2 linked regions of the Homo sapiens genome follow. The protein of the gene in region 2 purifies or fractionates together with the protein of the main gene of each other region. This does not show direct contact. Each region holds a gene or a part of one and is shown on either strand. Other genes may lie near its edges.

Region 1 (7,382 bases), on a different chromosome or scaffold from region 2:
CTTGAACAGATATTCAGACACCCATGTTCCTATTAGCATTATTTATAATAGACAAAAGGTGGAAGAAATCCAAGTGTCCATTGACAGATGAAGAGATAAACAAATTAGTATACACGTACAATTACTAAGCCTTAAAAAGGAAGAGTTTTGACACATGCTAACACACTGATGAACCTTGAAGACATATGAATTGAAATAAGCCAGTCATAAAAGGACAAATATTGAATGATTCCACTTATATAAGGTTTCTGTAGTAGTCAAATTCATAGAGATAGAATGTAGAATGATGGCAGGCAATGGGTTTATGTGGAGCTTTTGTTTAGTTAATACAGTTTCTGTTAGGCAAGATGAAAGATTTCTGGATATGGATGGAGGTGACAGCTGTATAACAATGTGAATTTCATTAATGCTACAGAGCTGTACACTTAAAAATGGTTACGAGGTTAAATTTTATTTTTTTTACAACAACAAAAAATAATATCCACTACAGATTGAAACATTTTTTCAACCTTAAAGATCACTGTGAACTCTGTTATTGCATAAAAATTGTAATAAACATTGTATAGTTTATTATAGTTATTATTATGTACATTAATTATTTTTATTACTGTCTTACTCCTTTTAGGAGAGGCATAATTTGTGCTTTTGAAATGGAAACTAAGGTATCATGGGAATAATTAATGAATTGATTCTTATCCCCTAGAACAGCGTGAAGATAAGGAGCCCGACTGTGAATGGAAAGTTAGCTTTCAGTATTCATCCTCATCTCTTTCTCTCCTCACATCTTCATAATGGAGGCTGACTGTGTAGATGGACAGAAGGGACTTGGCAGAGCTTTGCTCATGCCACTCACCCTTTTTCTTTCCAGCCAGCTTGTTCATCAGGTAGGATTTGCCTGTGCGGTAGAGGCCCACAATTGCCACCACCACCATAGGCTGTGTAATGGCAGAAAGGATCTTCAGAGCTTCTGGATTCGCCATCAGTCGCCCATTAGTGTTCTCAATGAGGCACATTGGGCCTGTCATGTGGATCTCTGATGCCATGTCCAGGCTGTTCCCTTGTCTGCAAGAGAAGAGGTGAAATACATGAGAATTTCTAGTGTTTTGCAATTATAAGGGAGAATCATAAGATTCCCCAGTATGGCCAAAAGTTTTGTGTGTGACAGCAAAAGAGATGAGGCAAAATCTGTATCATTTGAGAAAGTTATGGAAGTATTGTCAAAGTAGCTCATTATGAAAAATGTTAGCATGACAGTGACTTATCAACACTCAACTACTCTCACGACCCAAATATTTCATTTAGTTTATTGTGGAAAACTTTCTTTTTGGATTCTTATTAGATATTTTCACTAGTCAATTAATGGAAGATAGAATAGGATTTAGAGGATTTATTTGCATCCTGGCTGTATGTAAGGAATTCAATATTGATTCACTTATTAATTCTCACAGTGAATAAACATCCAACACAGTGAATCAGTATTCATAGTTTGATGTTTACCCTTAGAAAAATTTCCAAAGATTTTTAAATGTGTTCCTTCCTCCATCTTCAAATGATTATGCTTATTTCACTGCAATGAGGATTGACAAAGCTTCTCACATTGCCATTCTGGAAGTGGTAACAATGTAACATACTTTTGCAAATTTTATAAAACTATACAACCATGTGAAACACATGGCTAGGGAACCTTCCAAGGGCTCCTAAGGGTCATGTCCAAGAGAAGGGCCCTGAAACTTAAGCTTCATTAGAGTCACGATAAGATAGCTTCTAAGTCACTGAGGGTATGAATGCAAAATTGCAAATACTGAATGTTTCCTCCAGATAATAAGGATTAAAAGATCAAGAGGCAGATAAAGAGAGCTACCTAGGAAGTTGTTCAAATAAAATATATTTCCAGCGATACAGCTTTAGGATTTCTGTTTTGTTCTGTTTTCCATTTGGTAGGGTAGGAGAAAGAGAAATAGAAAGAGGAGGAATAGTAGGAGTGGAGAGGAGGATAAGGGGCTGGGAATGTGTGTGTGTGTGTGTGTGTGTGTGTGTGTGTGTGTGTGTGAGAGAGAGAGAGAGAGAGAGAGAGAGAGAGAGAGGAGCTGTCAGACCAGAGGTGATGAATGAGGCTAGTGTCTTGACAAGGCATTCAGGGGAAGACTTTGCAGAAGGCAGGATCAAAGTAGTCTGAGTGCATGGAGAGGTTAAAGTAAGCAAAGATATTTTCTGTAGAGATGCATTACAGGAGAATTAAAGAGGAAACACTTTTGGCCCTGCTCTCTACTAAAAGAAGACAAAATTGGAAGCACTTCAGTGAAGCAGTGGGGTTGAATTTCACTTCTAAGGGACAGGGATCAGTGGGCACTAGGAAATTAGTGAGTCTGGACTATTTCTAAAGAAAGTAATCCATTCTGAAACAAAGTTCACAAGTGTAATAAAAAGTATACTGTTTTCATGAATCTTCATCTTTCAGGCTGAGTTTCAGTTTTTTCTTTGTCTTTAACCGTGTCAGTGGGCTGCTTACTCTGCTTCTCATTTGCTGTTCTTTCCTTCCATGAAAAGAACCCGTTTGTAACTCTTCCATTTCTTAGCTGCATAGAAGCAGGATTCAGTCCATCACTGACGATGGAAATGTAATCATATCCCTAGTCAACATAGATAATGTCAACAAAGAGAAAGACTATCCTAGTACATTTCAAATGCTCAGTTTAGCCCCTGTCTACTGGTGCCTAATTCAACACAAGCACTGTAGTGGCACTTAAGGCCATGCTGTCCCTGATAACACCAGGATTTCATCTGACCTGCGTCCCACTTCAGGCTCATCTGCAGCCTAATTTGGTTCTGATGATGTTTAAGAAAATGAACTGACCTTTATAAATTCCTTCCCATCCCTGCCACAACCTTATAGGTTCCATATCACTGAGCTGAGATCCTTTGGAGCTAGAGAGAAAGCTGCTTGATGAGAAGTAGTAAAAGTTCTTACCTGTTCTTTTTCTCCTTAGTTCACGAGCACTGGCTTCTAGCACTTCTGTGTCTCTCACTGGATCCCTGGACTAATATTTCACTGTTCCGAAGTTGTAGGGCTGGGATTTCCTCATTGATGAAATATTTAGAAGCTAAGCAGATTTGTAATGGATTTAGAGTAATATGAAACTGAAAGTACTTCGTTCAAATCACTGACTCCACTACCATAAATGGAATTAGTGGAGTGTGCCAGTGGGAGGGTTTAAAGATTTCTCAACCAGAAGCTTCAAATTTTTTTTGTTGTTGTTGGAAATCTTAGAGACCATTTGTTGTCTAACAAAATGCCCATTAGGTTTTGAATACAATGATACATGTCTCATGGATTGAGTCAATTTGAGAAACCTAGAATGAGGAGGCATCATGTTAATTTTCAGCTACAATTTCCTAAAATAATAGACACACTCTCAATGGAGCTGCCTATTCTTTGAGAGGTGCAGTACATAAGGAAAGGACATGTTTAACACACTCATGAACACCTAACCCCTGGCACTTAATGCCCAGCACACAGCCAGGAGGGGGCTCCATGTGTTGTACTCATGTTCTAGGCTCAGTACTGATGGCTTTACATGAATCGCACAACTGAAAACTCATAATATTTCCTCATGGTTTTATAGAAACTGAGCACAGAAAGACTTTATTAGTTGTCTAAAATCATAACACTGTAACTAATCTGAACCCAAGCACTCATGATCCCATACCCTCTTCTTGAACCACTTCACTATGCTGCTTATTTACTAAGTGAAAAATTGTAGAAATATTTTATTTATAGGTTTTTTATTTTTAAATTTATTATAGTGTGATTTTATTTTTATAGATTGTTTTCTAAGAGCTGTTTGTGTTTTATGTCTAATTCAGTAATGACTTCTAGCATACAGAATAAGTGGCATTATCTCTATTTTACAGCAAAAGCAAATAAAATAGTAAAAAGCCTGAGTGAACATTTCATTTAAAAATATATTTATAGTGATGTGGTTTCACTTTGTTGCTTAGGTTGGTCTTGAACTCCTTCCTTCAAATGATCCCCCTGCCTCGGCCTCCCAAATTGCTGGGATTATAGGCATGAGCCACCAGACCCAACCTTGTGTGAGCATTTCTTTTTTTTTCTTTTTCTTTTTCTTTTTTTTTTTTTTTTTTTTTGAGATGGAGTTTCACTCTTGTTGCCCAGGCTGGAGTGCAGTGGCACGATCTCGGCTCACTGCAACCTCCGCCTCCTGGGTTCAATCAATTCTCCTGCCTCAGCCTCCCAAGTAGCTGGGACTACAGGCATGTACCACTATCCTGGCTAATTTTGTATTTTTAGTAGAGATGGGGTTTCTCCATGGTGGTCAGGCTGGTCTCGAACTCCCGACCTCAGATGATCCACCCACCTTGGCCTCCCAAAGTGCTGGGATTACAAGTGTGAGCCACCAGGCCTGGCCAAGCATTTCTCACTTACACATTAAAATTATATATTAGATGTATATAAATTGCAGATACAGTGTCTTTTCTCATTCATACTTTGTAAAATAATTTTATCTAAACTCTTTCTATCATCCTTCCTTAACACTGTAGCTCCTTTATTATTAAAACTACTTTAAAGTCTTTTACTTTTTAGAGCATAACATTCTTACATCTGTCAAAATTATTTGAACCATTTAAAATCTCTGCAGATTGTCCTGGAAGTGTAGGGGTGGGTTGCCCCTCCACACCTGTGGGTGTTTCTCGTAAGGTGGAACGAGAGACTTAGGAAAGAAAAAGACACAGAGACAAAGTAGAGAGAAAGAAATAAGGGGAGCCGGGGAACCAGCGTTCAGCATATGGAGGATCCCGCCAGCCTCTGAGTTCCCTTAGTATTTATTGATCATTCGTGGGTGTTTCTCCGAGAGGGGGATGTGTCAGGGTCACAAGACAATTGTGGGGAGAGGGTCAGCAGACAAACACGTGAACAAAGGTCTTTGCATCATAGACAAGGTAAAGGATTAAGTGCTGTGCTTTTAGATACGCATACACATAAACATCTCAATGCTTTACAAAGCAGTATTGCTGCCCGCATGTCCCACCTCCAGCCTTAAGGTGGTTTTTCCCTATCTCAGTAGATGGAACATACAATCGGGTTTTATACCGAGACATTCCATTGCCCAGGGACGGGCAGGAGACAGATGCCTTCCTCTTGTCTCAACTGCAAGAGGCATGCCTTCCTCTTATACTAATCCTCCTCAGCACAGACCCTTTACGGGTGTCGGGCTGGGGGACGGTCAGGTCTTTCCCTTCCCACAAGGCCATATTTCAGACTATCACATGGGGGGAAACCTTGGACAATACCTGGCTTTCCTAGGCAGAGGTCCCTGAGGCCTTCCACAGTTTTTGTGTCCCTGGGTACTTGAGATTAGGGAGTGGTGATGACTCTTAAGGAGCGTGCTGCCTTCAAGCATCTGTTTAACAAAGCACATCTTGCACCGCCCTTAATCCATTTAACCCTGAGTTTGACACAGCACATGTTTCAGAGAGCACGGGGTTGGGGGTAAGGTCACAGAATCTCAAGGCAGAAGAATTTTTCTTAGTACATAACAAAATGGAGTCTCCCATGTCTACTTCTTTCTACACAGACACAGTGACAATCTGATCTCTCTTGCTTTTCCCCACAGGAAGCATACATCACAATGAAACATCTATTCAAGGAGAGCTCCTATAACTCCGGTAAGAATAACAAGAATCTGTGGCACTTGACCCTTGGGCCTCTTCATCCTCATTTTCAGTTCGGGTTGACAAAAGGTCCACTACTGGGGGCTATGGAAAGAAGGTGGGGCTGCCTCTTCTCTCACATTCTGAGCAGGGATGACATATCCTATCAGGAGTGCCAGTCCACCAGAATTTTTCATCCCCTCCAATAGTGAGTTGTAAAGACTAAATTTCTGGTGAGTGTGACCAGAAGTCAAGGGCTCCCAAACTTTCCCAGTCCCACTCATAGAGCAGAGGCTCCATAACTGCCCAACAGGTTCTCCTTGCCTGTTGCCTAGGTAGAGCTGATTTATCAAGACAGGGGAATTGCAGTAGAGAAAGCGTTTAATTCACGCAGAGCTGGCTGTATGGGATTCTCAAGTTTTATTATTACTCAAAAGATTCTCCCTGATAATGTGGGTATGGGGGTTTCTGAGGATAATTTGGTGGGTAGGAGGTTGGGGAGTGGGGAGTGCTGATTGGCTGGGTTAGGGATGAAATCACAGGGCATCAAAGTTGTCCTCTTGCATGAGTTGGTTCCTGGCTGGGGGCCACAAGACCAGATGAGCCAGTTTATTGACCTGGATGGCAATTGGAGAGGTCTGGAATCTTGTGGCCTCTAGCTGCATGACTCTCAGACCACAGTTTCTAATCTCATGGCTGATTTGTTAGTCTTGCAAAGTTAGTCTAGTTCTCAGGGAAGAAGGGGTTTTATTTTGGGAAAAGGCTGACTAAATTCCTTCCAATGTCAGTTTGGCCTATGCTCAGGGATGAACAAGGACAGCTTGGAGGTTAGAAGTAAGATAGAGTCAGGTCAGATCTCTTTCACATAATAATATTCTCAGTTATAATTTTTGCAAGAAGATTTCAGCTTTAGCTCAGGAATGGCAGAATGAGAAACCCTGGCCTGTCACCCTCACTCTGGTTCACTTGTAGGGTGGTTTTTCCGTGTTGGGAGGGGCAACTGGCAAAGAGCAGAAGCTACCACCTCTGCCCATTCGAAGGGGTCATGGCTCAGAGATATTTTCCAGAGAGAGAGAGGCAGTCCATAAAATCAGAGCTCCAAAGCTTTTCCCACAGAAACTGACTTTATTTGAAAAAGAGTGTGGGCCGGGGGGAGATTCAAGCCTGGAAACATAAATAAAATTTACTACTAGATGACTGACTTTACAAGAAATACTATTAATAAAAGAAGGTTTTCAGGCAGAAAGCAGATGACTCCAGATGGCAATACACATCCACATGGACAAACAAAGAGCACCAGTAAGATAATTATATAGTTATAAAAGACTGTATAAATGCATATTTCTTCTTATTTCTCTTTTTAACTAATTTTTAAAAGACAGTTGTATAAAGCAATATGTATATAATTGTGTTTCAGGCTCATAACATATAGAAACGTGATATACTTAAGAACAGGACAAGAGAGGACAGTAGGAGCGAAGCTGCATTGGAATAAAGAAATGACAGCAGATGTTAACTTGAACCCCCAGGAATACATTAAGAGAACCTGAAACTGTAAGTTAACATAACAAGCTCTATACATTTATACCTTCCCCTTCAGCTTCTTTAAAAGACATAAAATTATGTGAATTAATTATAACAATGTATTATATTGTTTGAACATATATTTAACGTATTTAATAGTATCAAAAAAGTGAGAAAACTAGTATTTT
Region 2 (7,026 bases):
CCAAAGTGCTGGGACTAAGGCATGAGCCATCATGCCTGGCCAAATTTTTGTATTTTTAGTAGGGACAGAGTTTCACTATGTTGGCCAGGCTGGTCTTGAGCTCCTGACCTCAAGCGATCTGACTGCCTCAGCCTCCCAAAGTGCTGAGATTACAGGCATGATCCACTGCTCCTGGCCGTGCCTGGCTTTCTAACTTGGTCTTTCAGGCGTGAGCCACTGTGCCCAGCCTAGATGATTCATCTTCTGTCGGAAGAAACATATCAAACCGTTTTGTCTCTTAGACTGGAGGCTCTATGGGTGGTAGGGAATGCATCTGATTTGTTCACTATTGAATCTAGCACATATAGTGTGCAATAAAAATGCTTGCTGAATGTACTGATTATATACTGTCATTTAATTTTTCACAAATTTGTACAATTGGATTGTTTTTAGGTTTTTTCTCTTTTTCAAATAATGTAGGTATAAGCATTTTGAACAGGTAAAATTTCCTTTCATTCATGTATTTTTTGGACCATATTTGTTAATGTAGAAGTCCCAAATTGAAGCGTTGAGCACTTTCATGACTCTTGCTACAAACTGTCAAATTGAATTTCAGAAAAATTTGCTTTAGTTTATGTTATGTCCAACTCTGTTTGAATATACCTGTTTCCTTGACACTCCACAAATACTGATTTTGTGGATTGATTTTTGTTTATTGATTTTTAAAATTTTTTTGGAGACAGAGTCTTGCTCTGTCACCCAGCCTGGAGTGTAGTGGCATGATCTTGGCCCACTGCAACTTCCTCCTCCCAGGTTTAAGTGATTCTCCCAACTCATCCTCCCGAGTAGCTGGGATTACAGGCGTGCACCAACACACCTAGCTAATTTTTGTATTTTTAGTAGAAACAAGGTTTCACCATGTTGGCTAAGCTGGTCTTGAGCTCTTGACCTCAGGTGATCTGCCTGCCTTGGCCTCCCAAAGTGCTGGGATTACAGGCGTGAGCCACTGAGCGCAGCCTATTTGTTAATTTTCATCCTCTGTTTGGTGAGCATGTGTTCTGGCATAGTGAACTGTTTTGTTTTTATTTATTTATTATTTTTTTGAGACGGAGTTTCGCTCTTGTTGCCCAGGCTGGAGTGCAATGGCATGATCTTGGCTCACCTCAACCTCCGCCTCCTGGGTTCAAGCAATTCTCCTGACTCAGCCTCCCGAGTAGCCGGAATTACAAGCATGCACCACCACGCCTGGCTAATTTTGTATTTTTAGTAGTGACAGGGTTTCTCCATGTTGGTCAGGCTGGTCTTGAACTCCCGACCTTAGGTGATCTGCCTGCCTCAGCCTCCCAAAGTGCTGGGATTACAGGCGTGAGCCACCATGCCTGGCTGTGAACTGTTTTATTAAAAACTTATATGCTGGGCATGGTGGCTCACGCCTGTAATCCCAGCACTTTGGGAGGCCGAGGTGGGTGGATCATCTGAGGTCAGGAGTTTAAGACCAGCCTGGCCAACATGGTGAAACCCCATTTCTACTAAAATACAAAAAATTAACCAGGCGTGGCGATGGGCGCCTGTCGTCCCAGCTACTCGGGAGGCTGAGGGAGGAGAATTGCTTGAACCCAGGAGTTGGAGGTTGCAGTGAGCCGAGATCATTGCGCCACTGTACTCCAGGCTGGGTTACAGAGCAAAACTCTGTCTCCAAAAAAAAGAAAAAGAAAAACAAAAAAACCTAACTTACAGTCTAAATTCTTTAGGTTCTCTGGTTTTTACGTCTTCCCTGTTTTTGGATAACCCTCATGGGTAGGAGCAGTGAAAATAGGAGAAATTCTAAATTGTTCACTTCGTGCCTGTTTAACAGCCATGGAAAATTTGTTTTGATACCTATAAGTTATCACATAGCTCATTTCTTTTCTTTTTTTTTTTTTTTTTTGAGATAGAGTTGCTCTGTCGCCGAGGTTGGAGTGCAGTGGTGTGATCTCAGCTCACTGCAATCTCCACCTCCTGGATTCAAGCGATTCTTCTGCCTCAGCCTTCCGAGTAGCTGGGATTACAGATGCATACCACCACACCCAGCTAATTTTTGTGTTTTTAGTAGAGACGGGGTTTCACCATGTTGGCCGGGATGGTCTTGATCTCCTGAGCTCGTGATGTGCCCGCCTGGGCCTCCCAAAGTGCTGGGGTTACAGGTGTGAGCCACCACACCTGGCCTCTTTTTTATTTTAAATTGTAGTGGAAAGGTTGGTGAAATTCTTGCCTCAAATGAGGCATAGGTTTACATTTACATAGATTGTTTGGGTTTCAGTAATTAATTTTCCAGTCATCCTTCATCTTGTCTAGAGTGTTTCGTTGCTGTGTTATAACTTCCTGAGGGAAGCTCTGGAAGTGGCAGTAGCTGGAACTGAATTGTTTAGAGACTCTGGGACAATGTGGCAGCTGAAGCTGCAGGTGCTGATCGAGTCAAAGAGCCCTGACATAGCCATGCTTTTTGAAGAAGCCTTTGTGCACCTGAAACCCCAGGTCAGTGAGCTGGATCTTTTGTATTCATTATATTTGGGAAACCTTTTAAGACTAGCCAAGGCTCATTTGGAATGTACTTGTCTATTGAGAGCCAACTCTAGAGTGGCATTTGCTATTCAGTGGTGATGGTTCATAGGTTAAGAGTAGAAGAATTTGCTTCTATTTAATATCCTTTATTTGAAAGTTAACCAAATTAAATAAAACTTCCTATTCTATTTAGATATCTTATAAAGTTAGAAATACCAGTAGAATATTAATGTCACTTGCTGAATATAAGCCCAACCTTTTTTTTTTTTTTTTTTAAGATGGAGTCTCGCTCTGTTGTCCAGGCTGGAGTGCAGTGGCGTGATCTCAGCTCACTGCAATCTCTGCCTCCCGGGTTCAGGCAATTCTCCTGCCTCAGCCTCCCGAGTAGCTGGGACTACAGGCGCATGCCATCACACCTGACTAATATTTTCTATTTTAGTAGAGACAGGATATCTCCATGTTGGCCAGGCTGGTCTGGAACTCCTAGCCTCAAGTGATCTGCCCGCCTTGGCCTCCCAAAGTGCTGAGATTACAGGCGTGAGCCACGGTGTATGGCCAGATTCACTTTGCAGTGAATTTTTTATATTAGTAGGTAAAACGTATTCCAGAAGATAAAGTAGGAAAAAAACTACTGCTCATTTGGTGGTTTTTCCTTTTTTTTGAGATGAAGTCTTGTTCTGTTGCCCAGGCTGGAGTGCAGTGGTGCAAACTTGGCTCACTGCAACCTCCACCTCCCAGGTTCAAGCGATTCTCCTGTCTCAGCCTCCCAAGTAGCTGGGATAAGAAGTGCCCACCACCATGCCCAGCTAATTTTTGTATTTTTAGTAGAGACAGGGTTTTGCCATGTTGGCCAGGCTGGTCTTGAACTCCTGGCCTCAAGTGATCCGCCTGCCTCCGTCTTTAAAGTGCTGGGATTGCAAATGTGCGCCACCATGCCTCGCTTTTGCTGCTCATTTGTACGTACCTCTGGGACATGAATGAAGATCAGATAGTTCAGCCTAGATTAATTAGTTCTTGTGTTGTGGGTCTTAGACAGCAGAGACATGACCTGGGTAGCTGTGGGTCTAACTGTGTGGGCTGTTAATTACTTACTTAACTAAAAGATGATTGATGATAACTACATGAAATATTTCCCAATAGAAAGGAACTAAAATTCACAGAAGAGTGTTGCTCTGAGTGACTTGGTCAGAAGGCTGGCTGTGTTCTGGAGTGCCATTCCTGCTGGGCAATGAGAATTCTGTCACAATGAGGACTGTTTGGGAATGAATCCCTATTTTACATGTTGATTATCTTAGGAGGAACCTGCCTTTTTAACTAGTTTTCAGAGCATAGGACTAAACTGTCATTTTATAGCATAAAAAAATTGATACATAATATTTTACATATTTATAGGGTACATGCGATGTTTTGTTATATGCTGTTCTCTAACTAACATTTTTTAAACTGGGAGTAGGTTTGTCTGCCATTGTGGATTTCCTGGGCAGAGTGGAGTGAAGGTGCCAAAAGCCAAGAAGACACTGAGGCAGTCTTTAAGGTATAGGCTCCGTGTTCCAAGTCTTGTGGTGTGGGGAATGGCAGAAGGTTCCCTGGTTGGTCAGCTCTAGTGTTGCAGGTGCGCCTAAAGCACTATGGAGTGGCCTCAGGTGGTTCTGGGAAAATCTGTTTTGGTATCTATAAGTTTTCTCACATAGCTTCTTTCTTTTTTCTTTTAAATTGTAGAAAGCTCTCTTAGCTGTCATAGGTGCCGACTCAGTAACCCTGAAGAATAAGTACCTGGATTGGGCTTATCGAAGTGGTGGCTACAAAAAGGCCAGAGCTGTGTTTAAAAGGTACTCACAGACGTTCATAGTTGTTACTAGTCCCTCTACCCCATGCTCAGCCGCTCATACCCAGATTATTTGAATCACAGATAGCATCTGAGGGAGTAATCTGATACACTTTTTCTTTTTTTTTAAGATGGAGTCTTGCTCTGTTGCCCAGGCTGGAGTGCAGTGGCACAATCTCTGCTCACTGCAATCTCCGCCTCCTGCGTTCAAGTGATTCTCCTGCCTCGGCTTCCCGAGTAGCTAGGATTACAGGCACCTGCCACCACGCCTGGCTAATTTTTAAATTTTAGATTTTAAAGACAAGGTTTCACCATGTTGGCCAGGCTGGTCTCAAACTCCTAACCTCAGGTGATCTGCCCACCTCAGCCTCCCAAAGTGCAGGGATTACAGGCATGAGGCACCACACCTGACCCAATACACTGTTTCATTTTCCTTTTTTTTTGTTTTTTTTTTGTTTTTTTGAGACAGTGATTCTCCCGCCTTAGCCTCCTGAATAGCTGGGATTACAGATGTGTGACACCACGCCCGGCTAATTTTGTAATTTAGTAGAGACGGTTTCATCATGTTGGCCAGGCTGGTCTCGAACTGCTGATCTCAAGTGATTTGCTTGTCTTGGCCTCTCAAAGTGCTGGGATTACAGGCATGAGCCAGTGCATTTGGCCTCCAGTGAACTTTTTCAAAAAGTAATGTTTCCTTTTCTTTTTTGAGACAGGTTCTCGCTCTGTCACCTAGGTTAGAGTGTAGTGGCACAATCATGGTTCACCGAAGCCTTGACCTTCTGGGCTCAAGCAGTCCGCCCACCTCAGCCTCCCAAATGTCTGGGTCTACAGGCATGTACCACCATGTCCAGCTAACTTAAAACATTTTTTTTTTTTGGTAGAGACTGAGTCTCACAACATTGTTCAGCCTGGTCTCAAACTCCTGGGCTCAAGCAGTCCTCCTGCCTCAGCCTCCCAAAGTGCTAGGATTATAAGTGTAAGCCACCATGCCTGGCCTTCTTTTTCTTTTTTTTGAACAATAAAAGCAGTTCATTGTGGTGGGGGAAAACATAACCATGATAATTTATTACATCATCGAAGGAAAAATTACTGTTAACACATAATTTTAAAATTTGTTTTTATGTAGTTGAGATTATAGTATAACTGTAATTTTATTTATGATTTAAAAAAAATTTCTTTTTTTTTTTGAGATGGAGTCTCACTGTGTTGCCCAGGCTGGAGTGCAGTGGTACAGTCTCGGCTCACTGCAACTTCTGCCTCCCGGGTTCAAGCGATTCTCCTGCCTCAGCCTCCTGAGTAGCTGGGATTACAGGCATGTGCCACGACGCCCGGCTAATTTTTTATATTTTTAGTAGATAAGGGTTTTTGCCATGTTGGCTAGGCTGGTCTCGAACTCCTGACCTCTGGTGACCTGCCCGCCTCGGCCTCCCTAAGTGTTGGGATTACAGGTGTGAGCCACTGTGCCCGGCCTAAATATTTTTTTTTTCTTTGAGACAGAGTCTTGCTCTGTTGCCCAGGCTGAGTGTAATGGCGCCATCTTGGCTCACTGCAAACTCTGCCTTCCTGGTTCAAGTGATTCTTGTGCGTTAGCTTCCCAAGTAGCTGGGACTACAGGTGTGTGCCACCACACCCAGGTAATTTTTTATTTTTAGTAGAGATGGGGTTTCACTGTGTTGCCCAGGCTGGTCTTGAACTCCTGGGCCCAAGCAATCTGCCCAGCTCAGCCTCCCAAAATGCTGGGATTACAGGCATGAGCTACCATGCCTGGCGATGCCCCGCTAATTCTTAAATTTTTTTGCAGAGTCAGGGTCTCGCCTTGTTGCTTAAACTGATCTTGACCTTATGGCTTCCAGTGATCTTCCTGCCTTGGCCTCCCAAAGGGCTGGGATTGTAGGTATGAGGCACTGTGCCCAGCCAAAAATTCTTTATAAACATCATTTATTAAACATAGCTATATGAGCTGGGCACGGTGGTTCAAGGCCTCTAATCTCAGGATTTTGGGAGACTGAGACAAGAGGATTGCTTGATCCCAAGCATTTGAGACGAGCGTGGGCAACACAACGAGACTTCATTTCTATGAAAAGTTAAAAGGCCGGGTGCGGTGGCTCATGCCTGTAATCCTAGCACTTTAGGAGGCCGAGGCGGGCGGATCACAAGGTCAGGAGTTCGAGACCATCCTGGCTAACACGATGAAACCCCGTCTCTACTAAAAAAAATACAAAAAATTAGCCGGGCGTGGTGGCAGGCGCCTGTATTCCCAGCTACTTGGGAGGCTAAGGCAGGAGCATGGCGTGAACCTGGGAGGCGGAGCTTTCAGTGAGCTGAGATCGCGCCACTGCATTCCAGCCTGGGCGACAGAGCAAGACTCCATCTCAAAAAAAAAAAAAAAAAAAACTTAAAAAGTTGGGTGTCATGGCATGTGCCTGTGATTTTAGCTACTTGGGAAGCTGAAGTCAGAGGATCACTTGAGTCCAGGTGGTTGAGGCTGTAGTGAGCCGTGTTTGTGCTAGTACACTCCAGCCTTGGTGACAGAGTGAGACCCTGTCTCAAAACAAAAACATCCAGGTGCGGTGGCTCATGCCTGTAATCCCAGCACTTTGGGAGGTCGAGGCAGACGGATCACGAGGTCAGGAGATCGAGACCATCCTGGCTAATATGGTGAAACCCTGTCTCTACTAAAA

The links. The genes of interacting proteins can lie anywhere in the genome.
Region 1: the proteins of UTP6 (region 2) and GBP1 purify together in Homo sapiens (affinity purification with mass spectrometry; 2 studies listed by BioGRID and IntAct, with this or other methods). This does not show direct contact.

The regions. Positions count from the first base shown.
Region 1 is NC_000001.11:89,062,192-89,069,573, forward strand, and holds the start of GBP1 (guanylate-binding protein 1), read right to left. Parts: upstream 3,018-7,382; 5' UTR 2,969-3,017; intron 1,063-2,968; 5' UTR 1,044-1,062; coding exon 854-1,043; intron 1-853.
Region 2 is NC_000017.11:31,870,701-31,877,726, reverse strand, and holds part of UTP6 (U3 small nucleolar RNA-associated protein 6 homolog), read left to right. Parts: intron 1-2,313; coding exon 2,314-2,493; intron 2,494-3,973; coding exon 3,974-4,054; intron 4,055-4,239; coding exon 4,240-4,349; intron 4,350-7,026. UniProt on the Homo sapiens protein: Part of the small subunit (SSU) processome, first precursor of the small eukaryotic ribosomal subunit.